Linked DNA regions of Homo sapiens. The protein of the gene in region 2 binds, or shares a complex with, the protein of the main gene of each other region. Each region holds a gene or a part of one and is shown on either strand. Other genes may lie near its edges.

The links. Proteins that work in one complex are often made in the same cells at the same time.
Region 1: HTATSF1 (region 2) and SF3A2 share a complex: the UniProt entries of both Homo sapiens proteins name them as parts of the 17S U2 SnRNP complex.

The regions. Positions count from the first base shown.
Region 1 is NC_000019.10:2,239,824-2,246,853, forward strand, and holds part of SF3A2 (splicing factor 3A subunit 2), read left to right. Parts: intron 1-3,558; 5' UTR 3,559-3,595; coding exon 3,596-3,721; intron 3,722-4,720; coding exon 4,721-4,792; intron 4,793-4,909; coding exon 4,910-4,956; intron 4,957-5,622; coding exon 5,623-5,732; intron 5,733-6,929; coding exon 6,930-6,979; intron 6,980-7,030. UniProt on the Homo sapiens protein: Component of the 17S U2 SnRNP complex of the spliceosome, a large ribonucleoprotein complex that removes introns from transcribed pre-mRNAs.
Region 2 is NC_000023.11:136,507,577-136,512,861, forward strand, and holds the end of HTATSF1 (17S U2 SnRNP complex component HTATSF1), read left to right. Parts: intron 1-1,514; coding exon 1,515-1,604; intron 1,605-2,505; coding exon 2,506-2,643; intron 2,644-3,231; coding exon 3,232-4,437; 3' UTR 4,438-4,770; downstream 4,771-5,285. UniProt on the Homo sapiens protein: Component of the 17S U2 SnRNP complex of the spliceosome, a large ribonucleoprotein complex that removes introns from transcribed pre-mRNAs.

The DNA.
Region 1 (7,030 bases), on a different chromosome or scaffold from region 2:
TTTTTTGTTTGGATCGTCCTGTCTGTATTTTTCAAGGGCTTTTTGTTTTAATTCAGCTTGTCATTCAGCTTCCTGTTCTGGGTTTGTGGTGCAGTGGCTTCCCCCGATAATGAAGGAGGGTGTCAGCGATCTCTTACTGGGATACCCATCAGTCTCTTTGTTCTCGGATGCGTGTGTTTCTCTTTAAGAACAAAGCGGCCGGCAGCTCTGTGTGAGCGCCACTTCTCATCCAGGGAGGTCAACTGCCCAGTGGCCTGGCAAGGAGCGGGCCTTTTCTTTGAGGTGTGGGGACCCTGAATGTCAGTATTTGAGAACTCTTCCTCTGGCGCTGTTTCCCCGGAAAAGACTCCTGGCCTCCCCCGGGGTGGGGGGCGTCCGTGCTGGGCCGCCTGCCACCTGAGCTGTGCGGAGGAACCGCCAGACTTCCCGCTGCCCAGGCGGCAGGTCGTGATTCAGTCCCCCCTTTTCAGCCTGACCCTGGACCCCCTTGCTCTGCTGGGCCTGTCTCTCTAACTCTAGAGGCCCTTTTATACCAGTTCTTCTGGGAATAAAGTTCTGATCTCCTCGAGGGTTGTGGGCGATCCGAGCGTGGGACCTTCCCCGGGGTGCCGCCCCATTTCAGCTGCTGAGGAGGGACAGTGTGGGTGTTCGGTGGCTGCGATGGCTTGGGTTCGGATGGTTTCTGGTTTTCGGATCAGAGCTTTACTTGGTGAGTGGTTGAGTATTGGTCTGGGTTTAGGTTTCAGTGGGCCAGACTCCACAGGTGCTCCCTGTGACAGCTGGAGCTTGTGTCCTGAGCCAGCCACTGGCCGCTGGGGCGTTCTGTCTGGCCAGTTTTAAGAAGTAACTTGGCTTGCCCTAGATGGATTTGAACTCTTGGCTTTGTTAGCATTTTGCCATCTAAGTTCCTTCTCCAAGTCCTCCCAGCCATCGTGTCATTAGAACGTTCTGGAAATGTCACTAAAATGTGCCCGGAAATAAGTGCATCAAGATAGATTGGTGGCTCTTGGTGTGGCCATCTGCACCTGTCCTGGCCCCAGAAGCTGTGCTGCCTCTTCCGCATGGAGGAGCAAAGCGCAGGTCGCTCCTGAGGCTGAGCTCCGCTCCTCCTGGGCCCTGGGTCCTCCGCAGACACGTCCCACCCACTGCTCTTCTCTCTGCCAGAAGCTGCCGGCCATGAGGACGCATGGGTGGGCGCTGTGGAGAGTGCAGGCTTGGGGGTAGAGACCAGTGATGGCTCTGCAGAGCTTAGCCTCAGAGTAGGGGCGTGGTCCAGGAGAGGCCACGACAGGGACAAGCAGGGCGTTCGCATGCTGTTGAATTCCTTCATGACGAAAGGAGCAGGTCGTCCTCCCGGGAGAGGGGAGCGCTTGATGACGCCCCGAGATCTGTGTGTGGGAGTGCCTCTCAGCACCAGGCCCCTCCTGGGTTCTTGGAGTGCATCCGTGAAAGAAGGCCGATTCCCTGCCTTCTCACACGTTCCCCCGAGCGAGGGCTTGGTTCGGTGCTGAGATGCGTGGAGGACTGTGGTTTCTGTGATGTGTGGAGAGGCAAGTGCGGCTGCGGCCTGGTGGGAGGCTGCTTGCTGGGCTCCCCACGCACGTCCCCTGATGTGAGTTTCATGTCACTTGACCAGGAAATGCTTGAATGTCCTCCAGAGAAAAATGAGGCACTTCATGAACCTGTCCGGGCGGCACCCACACAATCCTGCCCGCCTGTGGGCCGTCCGGAGACAGAACCTCCCAGGCAGCTGTAAGCTGTTGTGGCAGCAGGGACTGTAGGAGTTGGCGTGGCCTGCAGCTGACGGCGCCAGCATGGAGAGGGTGCAGTTCTCCCTGGTCCTGAAGAATGTGTGGCCAAGAAGCCCGAGGCGGGGAGGGTTCCTTGGGGCCAGAGGGTGGCGTTCCCAGCAAAGGACAGTCCTTCTGGTGTCACAGTCTCCTTTTTCACACTGGAATGTTCTTTGTTTTGTGAAGGGATGGCGATGGTCACAGTGGTGGTTTCTCGAAGTTTACGTGACAACATGTAAAAATGGGCATCTCTAGGTGGGCTTTTGTGACATCTGAACTTCTGATGGGGCAGCCGTGATACTGCAGTGAGCTGGGAGGTCCACCTCACCAGTTACCATGCTTGATCATTTTCATAAACTTGCCCAGGGAATAAAAACTGGTTGGGGAGGGCTCCTGGGCCCCCATAGAGTAAGGGGTGACTTCAGGCCCCACCACAAGTCAGCAGTACAGCTGGCCTGTCCCTCAGCATGCCCCTGCACACCTGCGGCCACTGTGGCCTGTCCCTCAGCGTGCCCCTGCACACCTGCCGCCACTGTGGCCTGTCCCTCAGCGTGCCCCTGCACACCTGCGGCCACTGTGCCCTGTCCCTCAGCGTGCCCCTGCACACCTGCAGACACTGTGACACATCACTGCAGACGCAGTAGTTCAGATGACACGGCTGTATCAGCTTCTGGTTCTGGGGTCAGAGTCCAAACAGTCCACAGGGCTCCATTCCTTCTGGAGGCTCTGGGGGACAACTCGTTTCCTGCCTTTCCCAGTGTCCAGAGGCACCTGTGTGCCTTGCCTCGGGGCCCCTTCCTCCCCATTCACAGCCACAGCGCAGCCTCTCTGACTCTCAGCCTCCCGCCTCCTCTCATGAGGTCACCCAGGATCACCTGCCATTTTAAGATCCTCAAGCCCACCTGCACATCCCTTTTCTGCCATGAGGGGACATGTTCACAGGTCCCAGGGATTAGGATGTGGACATCTTTTGGGGGCAGTGATTCACTCAGTCTCATGGGCCCCATCTCTCTGAGCTCACCCAAGACCCTTAAACCAGGGCCCGGGGCCAACATTGAGCAGGCAAGGGAAAGACTACCAGGAGATGAGAGGAGGCTGCCTGGAACTCAGATTTGCACAGAGCCTGAAAGGGCGTGGGAGACCTTGGCAGAGGCCTGCATCAGGAAGAGGATGTTGGGGACTCAGCAGAGCCCCCTGCGCCACAAGCAGATGTGGCAGATCTCCCAGGTGTTACTCAGTGAGGATGCGAAGATCAGTGTCCTCACTGATCTCCGCCTAACAAATTTACATCGAGCCCAAGAGATTAGGTTGGGACAAGTAAGCGTAGCCAACCAGAGAGGGAATTCAGAGGAAGGCGTGAACACTAGGGGCTTGGGCAGTCCGGGATGGCTTCCTGGAGGTGGTGACTCGTTTGTGAGATCTTGGTCTTGTCTTCCCTTTATGCCTTCTCTGGGCTCCCTATTACAATTTCAGGTCTCCAGGCCTTGGCACCCTGGGCTGGAGCGGCTTCCTCTCCATCCCTCATGCCTGGTCACTTGGAGACAGGCTCCAGCTTCCTTGTGTCTGTGCCTGTCCACAGTGGGCCTCAGCCTCCTGGAAGAGACTGGGTGCGCTATGGGGTGGCCCCCTCAGGGCTGGTTAGACCCTGGCGCTGGGAGTGCAGGGTGAGGGGCAGTCTCGAGGGCTCCAGCCCAGCCCGCCCAGGGAGGTCCCAGCAGCAGCCCCGAGTTCTGAGCCATCTTCCTCACTCTCCTCTTGGCCTCCACAGGTGTCTCCCAGTCTGCTAAAGCCCTAAGGCCATCACCATGGACTTCCAGCATCGCCCCGGGGGCAAGACCGGGAGCGGGGGCGTGGCCTCCTCCTCCGAGAGCAACCGTGACCGCAGGGAGCGCCTCCGGCAGCTGGCCCTGGAGACCATCGACATCAACAAGGTGGGCCAGCCACCGTGCAGCTGCCTGTGGTGGGTGCTGGGCTTTCCAGGGCAGCCCTGGAGAGGGTGCCAGAGGCTCTTCTTGGGCCTCCGCCCAGGCTGGGCGATGCAGCCCCGTGTCCAGACGCTCCCCTGTTGCCCCCGAGCAGCCACAGCTCCCATCTGTCCACCCCAGAGAGCAGACCCTCTGTGGCTCTGAGTCCCATGTGGACATGTTTTGTTCTGTCCACAGCCTTCTGTTTTGCATTATTTAATTTTCTGGGAGTGGGGAGAGCTGATGTCAGTCCAGCCAGATGTGGTGAAGGGCAGCCTTTGATTTTAGCTTGTGCAGAGGCAGGGGTGAGCCGAGTCCCCTCAGCACCGTGGACATCGGGGCTGGAGCACTCTTTGTGTACCCTGACATGCCCCACGGGCCTGGCCTATGGCAAGGGCTCTGTTACCGTCCCCGTCTTCCAGATGAGGTCATGGGTAGAGGGGGTGCCACAGCCGCAGATGGTGGAGTTAGACTTTGAACTCCAGCGTCTGAGACGAGATGTGTGCGCCCGGCTGCCCCAGCTTAGGGCCTGCAGATGGGCGGGTCTTTGGGTCTTCAGTGTAGCCCATTTGCTTTTCTTGTGCCTGTGTCTGCCTTGTGCCTACTGCTGGCGTGGTGGCGTGGGCAGTGGACGGCTCCCTGCCTCGGGAGTGACCGGCGGTGCTGTCCTGGCTGTGCCTCCCTCTGACTCAGAACCACCAGGAAGGTGGTGTCGGGGGCTCCCTGGGAACCCCCACTGCTCGAAGCCTGGCCCACAGCCCCAGGTGGTGACACCCGTGCTCACGAAGGCCTCCCGCTGGATCCCCCGTTTTCAGAAATGCTTGACCACTGTCAGCGGTAGCCATGCCTCTACAGAAGGGGGGTTCTGCCTCCATGCCTCTACAGAAAGGGGATCCCGCCTCTGAGGGCCTTGACGGCAGCAGGCCGCGATCTTCTGTCTAACGGGCCCCTGTTCTTCCCCTCCAGGACCCGTACTTCATGAAGAACCACCTGGGCTCCTATGAATGCAAACTCTGCCTGACACTTCACAACAATGAGGTGCGGCCTCTGCCTGGCTCCGGGCGGCTCGCGGCGGGCTGAGTGGCTGACGTCAGGGGGACCTGCCTGTGTCTGTCCGCCCGGCCTCGAGTCATGCGTGTTTCCTTTCCACTCCAGGGGAGCTACCTGGCACATACGCAGGGGAAGAAGCACCAGACCAACCTGTGAGTACCTCATGTCCCTTTGATGCCTGGTGCTCCAGCAGCCGTTGGCTCAAGTCTCTGTGAGCCTCGCGGGCCACTGCTCCACAGCCGGGGAGCCAGCCTGGCCTGAGCCTCCCTGGGCGCTTGAGTACGGTTCCTGGGGAGCATTAGAGAACAGAGGCATGGATGGCTGAGGCGGGCAGATCACTTGAGGTCAGGAGTTCGAGACCAGCCTGGCCAACATTGTGAAACTCCATCTCTACTAAAAATACAAAAATTAGGCCAGGCATGGTGGCACACGTCTGTAATCACAGCTACTATGGAGGCTGAGGCAGGAGAATCTTGAATCTGGGAGGCAGAGATTGCAGTGAACCAAGGTGCTGCCACTGTACTCCATCCTGGGCGACAGAGTGAGACTCTTGTCTTATTAAAAAAAAAAAAAAAGAGCAGAGGCATGGAGTTGTTGGAAGGGCCCCAGCCAGGGACAGTGAGGAGCATGACAGGAAGAGAACATGCCTGTCCTATCCCTGTCCTCAGCCAAACCCCAGGGCCCCTCCCAGGCCCCTGGCCCTCCTCATCTCTCAGCTTGTAGTGAGCTCCAAGGTCAGGGGGCTCCTGGCACCTGGGCCCATGGCTTTGGTGCCTGTGTGTGGAGGGGTCCCAGCAGCACCTCCATCCTGTCCGCAGGGCCCGGCGAGCAGCCAAGGAGGCCAAGGAGGCCCCTGCCCAGCCCGCGCCTGAGAAGGTCAAGGTGGAGGTGAAGAAGTTTGTGAAGATCGGCCGCCCGGGCTACAAAGGTGAGTCTGCCCGCAGCGGGGCCGGCCACAGCCGCTGCCGTGACATAAGTGTGTTCTTTAGTCTCCAGTGCGGGAGGTGCAGCCCTGATAGCCTCCTCCCTGAGCCACTGTTTTCCGGCCTTGGTGGCCGTCCCTCACCCACCTGCAGCCTCTGGCGTTGTGTCTGGGAGCTGTCAGGCTGGGCCCGATAAGCACCCATCTCACCCAGCAGCCCATTTCCCAGCTGAGCCACAGTCTGTGCCCTCCTGTCCGGGTCTTGTGGAAGCTTCTGGGAATTCTTGCCAAGCAAAAGAGTGGAAGTGGAGGTGTGGTGAGCCCTGGCACATCCCTCCGGTTAACCTTGAAGCCTTTGAAGGAGGACAGGGAGAAGCGGCTGTTAGAGGCAGCTCCTCCCGGACCCTCAGCAGTGGGAATGGCTAGAGGTGACCCCGGTTCAGAAAGCTGGGGAAGTGACCAGGGTGGAAGATAGAGACTTGTGTCCATAGGGTTCAGGAAGGCGGGCACGCTACCCAGCAAGTGTTCTTTACAGAAGGCGGGGACAGCCTGTGTGCCTGGCCTCCAGACAGAAGCCTGCAGGGCAGAGGTCCCGGGGCAGGTGCACCGGGTGGGCGAGGGTGGCTAGAGCGGCAGGCTCCTGGTGGGGAGGCCCTGACAGGTCCTGGGCTTGGGCTCAGGACGGTGAGGCGGCAGAGGGCTTGTGAGTGTGCGTGTCTGAGGCCGCATGGAGAGTGGCCGGGCGGCAGGCAGCCCAGCAGCCATTCTCGGGGTCCAGGCTGCTGAGCTCTGGCGGGAAGGGCATCCTCTCTCGCTCACCGTATACATGGTGTCAGCCCTGTTCAGGCGGCCCCGCTCGAATCCCAGAGCCAGGGTGCCGAGGGCCCCTCCCTACCCAGTGGCCCCAACTCCTGCTGGGTGGTATCCCAGCACCCCTGGTGAAGGGCTCTGGGGATTGGGACAAAGGAGCACCATCCTCGGTCCCTGCCTGAGTGACTCCGCAGGTAGCTCAGCTCTGGCGCACCTGTGCCTTCACCTATACCAGAATCCCAGAGCCTGGGCGGAGATTGTCTAATGGTTGCCAGAGCTGCAGGGCCTCCCCCGGGGTCCCGCTCTCGTTCAGTGGGTGGCATTAGCCTGCCCCAGGTTCCTCAGCTTCGGAGAGGACAAGCAGCCGGGACCTGAGAGCTTTCTGTGTTGCAGTGACCAAGCAGAGAGACTCGGAGATGGGCCAGCAGAGCCTCCTCTTCCAGGTGAGATCAGGGACTTGGGCGTGGGGGGCGGCCAAAGGCACCCAAGAGGCG
Region 2 (5,285 bases):
AGAAAGCAAAGCACTGAGACATTGGTGTAGAAATGGAGGTGATGCCTACCCCCACCATGGAATCACGCTTCAATTTAAAAGTTGTTAAACATGTTGACACAGTTTTTTTTTTGTTTTTGATATAATCCTGATTTTCCTTGGTGAATAAAAGAGAGGTATTAGAAACAGTTTATCAAATTCTTAAAAAGATTTTCTTGAATATTGGCTTTGTACAAAAGTCTGTGCTATTTTCTGTGAGGTATCTGAAACTCAATAAAACAAAGGTCCTGCCTTCTGAAAGCACTCACTCTAATAGGAGCTAACCCCACACACACACACACATGTCAAAAGCCATAACTTTTATTCTCTACTCCTTATTCTTCTCAGGTCTGATCATTTTGTATAAAGCAAATTGGCTGCTTCTCCAAAATTGAGTTTTATAAGTGGGGAAGTCCAGAGTTCTGCCAACTGTAGTTTTAGAAGCCTCAGATTTATGCAAATGAGTATGATTTTATATTTTTTATTTTAAATCAGATTTCAGTAACTCCCTGCCAGCTTATTTTTGCTTTTTGAAGAACCTTATGGGAGGAAAGCCACAATTCTCTATAGTTCCTCTTTAGCTGATGAGAAAAATGAAAGCGTGTAAGAAAGATAGATGCGCTTAAATGTTTCCTAGAAAGTATAAGTCACCTTCAATAGAAATTTGTAGATAGGATATCTTCATTTATATTTGTATATAGTTGAAATTCAAGCTGATAATGTAGCTTTTCCTGAGCCCTTTTTATGCATTGGTACTTGGAGAGAGATTTGTTAATTCCCAGAGGGAATCTTAAATCATTTTGTTGTTATAGGGAGATTTCCACCCGAACTCTAGGCTACTAGAAACAGCAGTACTTGAATGTTCTTAATAGGCTCATAGTTGCAAGAAAGCAACAGCTAAGAATGTATTTTATTGCATGCTTAATAACAGCTCCTTATTTGTATGGTTCTGTTACAATGTGGTAGGAGACAAGACGAACAGTAATCCTTACGATGTTTATTCTGTGAGTTAAAATAGCATCTTGGAAGCACAAAAATCAATCTTAGGACACTTAGTCAATAAAAGGGATATATTGCTCTCTCTCTCTCCATTACAACATTTCTGTAAATAGGAATGTATCCAAAACACAAAGCAAAGGGCTCTTATCAGTGTGATGTTGATGCCCATGCAGAGCATAGGAATTAGCAGTCTGACTGAATATGCGCCACAGGACTTCCACCATCTTCTCCTGCTCTGCCACTGTAGGCCCCTTCTGCTGCCTGCCATACTTGTCCATTTCCTTTGTTTAAAGCAGGGCAAACCTATAGGAGTAGCAGTGTATGTAGTAGTATAATTTTATTTGATTTTGAGTTTTTAAAAAATTGTATAGAATGAAAAACACAACCTTAAGCAAAACCTTTTTCTGTTTGTTGATTTATCAGAACAAGAAATTGGATTCTCAGGATTTATAGTTAAAGAAGGGAGCAAACCCATTTTAATCATGCATATTTTTCAGGATGATCCGTTGGTGCTGAATGAGATCAGAGAAGACCTTCGAGTAGAGTGTTCGAAGTTTGGACAAATTAGGAAACTCCTTCTCTTTGATGTAAGTTCATGGCTTGGACATATGGATCCTAAAGCAATAATTCCTCCACCTTATAAGTTCTTCTCAGATGTTAGTATACCCCTGAATTTTAGATTAATGTTTTTATATAGTAGTCCACTATCTTGTGATAATCATCTATTAGCAATAATGAGATGAACGTGGATTACAAGCCAAGGATTTGATAGATTTGGTATGCCTTGCTTATTTTCCGTCTTCATTACCCTAGAGTACATGATCAGGTGAAAGAAGGTACAGGAAAAATGTATGAGATCTCTGGTTCCCTATTAGTCACATTTTCCCCTCTTTGTGAATTATTCTCATCCTCCATATTTGGAACAATCAGGGACAATATTCTCCTGTATATTTCCTCTTCTCATCCTCTTTTTACTTCCAGAATTGACACCCAATAATTAAGAGTCACCATTTATTGCTTGTGTATTACAAGCTACTTTACATGTTATCTCACTTCTCAAAACCCTTTGAGGCAGGTTAGCACTATTACACCCATTTTACAGATGAGGAAGCTAACACTTTAGAAATTGAACACCTGGCTCAAGGTTGTTCATTTGGTAACTGACAGAGCCAGGATTTAATCCCAGGGCAATATGACTTCAGAGTTTACACTCTTAACAATTATACTGTCCTGCTTCTCATTAGACAGGGATGTCAGCAGAAACATTTCCAAGGACATTGTGCTTGGTTCTTGCTAGGTAAGATTGAGGTAAAGAAGCAGCTGACTGCACGTGACTGGCTGGGATAAAATGGAAGAAAGACTTCATACATAAAGTCTTTTACTTCAGAGTATCAGAGAGAACACTACTACTTACCTACTTTGTGAAATGTATGTGTTTTATTTTTAATCTTATCATTCATTCCTTTTTTTTCTTTCTTATCTTTCTAGAGGCACCCAGATGGTGTGGCCTCTGTGTCCTTTCGGGATCCAGAGGAAGCTGATTATTGTATTCAGACTCTCGATGGAAGATGGTTTGGTGGCCGTCAAATCACTGCCCAGGCATGGGATGGGACTACAGATTATCAGGTAAATTTTGCTGCTTGTCAAGGGCACACACATTGTTTCATTACCAACAAATACTGATCCTTCAGATCTAAATTTTGGGTTTGGTTTAACCTATTTAATGTAACAATGCTTCTTTTATTTTTATTTACTTATATATTTTAATTTTTTACTCTTCCTCTTAATTATTTACAGTGCTGCTTTTAAATAATATTTTGCATTCAGAAGATAGAGAAATGTTTGAGTCTTTCAGTTTCTAAGTCTGAAAGTTTGAGGCTTGTTCAGAATAGTGATAAGAAAAGAACACATTCAACCAAATGTTACTCTTCCTTTGTATGCTGTAAAGTATAGACAGAGCTCAAATATTAACTTTTTAAGAGATGAGACATTTCTGCAGTACTGTGATATTTGGCCTTTATTTAAGTGGTCTTATTTAAGGTCAACTCTAGTAAATCAAGATGTAAAGTTTTGAAAACTGAAGATGGAATTGCTTTCATTTCCTAATAAGAGATGCTTTATAAAATTAAGGTTGTTTCATCAATATTAGATATGTTCAGAGAAGTAACCTTTTGCCTGAAACTTATTTTAATGGCAGTCTCCATTTATCCACAGGTGGAGGAAACCTCAAGAGAAAGGGAGGAAAGGCTGAGAGGATGGGAGGCTTTCCTCAATGCTCCTGAGGCCAACAGAGGCCTTAGGCGTTCAGATTCTGTCTCTGCTTCCGAAAGGGCAGGGCCTTCTAGAGCAAGGCATTTTTCAGAGCACCCCAGCACATCTAAAATGAATGCTCAAGAAACTGCAACTGGAATGGCGTTTGAAGAACCTATAGATGAGAAGAAGTTTGAAAAGACAGAAGATGGGGGAGAATTTGAAGAAGGTGCTTCTGAAAACAATGCTAAGGAAAGTAGCCCCGAAAAAGAGGCTGAAGAAGGCTGCCCTGAAAAAGAATCTGAAGAGGGCTGCCCCAAAAGAGGGTTTGAAGGCAGCTGCTCCCAAAAAGAGTCTGAAGAAGGCAATCCCGTAAGAGGATCTGAAGAGGATAGTCCTAAAAAAGAGTCTAAAAAGAAGACACTCAAAAATGATTGTGAAGAGAATGGCCTTGCAAAGGAATCTGAAGATGACCTCAACAAGGAGTCTGAAGAGGAGGTTGGCCCCACAAAAGAGTCCGAAGAAGATGACTCAGAGAAAGAGTCTGATGAAGACTGCTCTGAAAAACAGTCTGAAGATGGCTCCGAAAGAGAATTTGAAGAAAATGGTCTCGAGAAAGATTTGGACGAGGAAGGTTCTGAAAAGGAGCTTCATGAAAATGTTCTTGACAAAGAGTTAGAAGAAAATGACTCTGAAAACTCCGAATTTGAAGATGACGGCTCTGAAAAAGTGTTAGATGAGGAAGGCTCTGAGAGAGAGTTTGACGAAGATTCAGATGAAAAGGAAGAAGAGGAGGATACATATGAAAAAGTATTTGATGATGAGTCTGATGAGAAAGAGGATGAAGAATATGCAGATGAAAAGGGGCTTGAAGCTGCTGATAAAAAGGCGGAAGAAGGTGATGCAGATGAAAAGCTGTTTGAAGAGTCAGATGACAAGGAAGATGAAGATGCAGATGGAAAGGAAGTTGAAGATGCTGACGAAAAGTTGTTCGAAGATGATGATTCCAATGAGAAGTTGTTTGATGAGGAGGAAGATTCCAGTGAGAAGTTGTTTGACGATTCTGATGAGAGGGGGACTTTGGGTGGTTTTGGGAGTGTTGAAGAAGGGCCCCTATCCACTGGCAGCAGCTTTATTCTCAGTAGCGATGATGATGACGATGATATTTAATCCCTTAAACTTGCTTTTTAGGGAGAGTCCTCCATCTACATTTGCCTGTGCTTCAGGGTAATTACTAGTAGTGTTACATGAACATGTGCATAGTGGTAGGATGCCATCAGATTAAAGCATTGAAGTGTTTCATTGTTACCTGTACCTAATGGTTTTAAATATATGTTAATTGATTGTTTAGTTAAAATGTCATAGTTACAATGCAAGTAAACTGGATACTTGTTCTTTTGTCAGATTTGTTAAATGCATGCAGAATAATATTTTTAAGAGTATTGATTGAAGTTTGTGATATTCATCAATAAAAATGAGTTGATAATATGCAGAAACTGAAAATTGGACTTGAGTTAAATTGCATTTTAAATTCTTGATATTGCTTTATTTATACTGAAGGTTGGCTTTTCTGAGGACTTGAAGAATCTCTTTGGAGTCTCCTTGCTTCCCGCTGGTATTAGCACGTATGTCTCCATTTCCTCTCTATAAACCAGAACATGTTCCTAAACTCAGAAAACAACCCTCTGGATTTTTTTTTTCTGCCCAGTCCTTGCAAATTAACTCTTGTTTGTTTTCTACCCTCTTTCCATTAAAATTGACTCTCAGATGTGCAAAAGTGAACTTCCTGCAGTCTACAGCTCCCATTATTATTAAAAATCTAAAGAAACAGATTAGAATTCTACCTTGTACTGTTAGCGTCTCTGGGCCCCTTTAGAAGTTAATTCAAATTAGAGGACCTCTTCCCAGAAAAAAATGTACACACTACACTACACAACTTGTGTACTGTTTGGGGAGGTTCATGGATTCCCTGAAGTTGAAGAACTTCATGCATGCTTCAGTTGTTCGTTTTTTTAGAA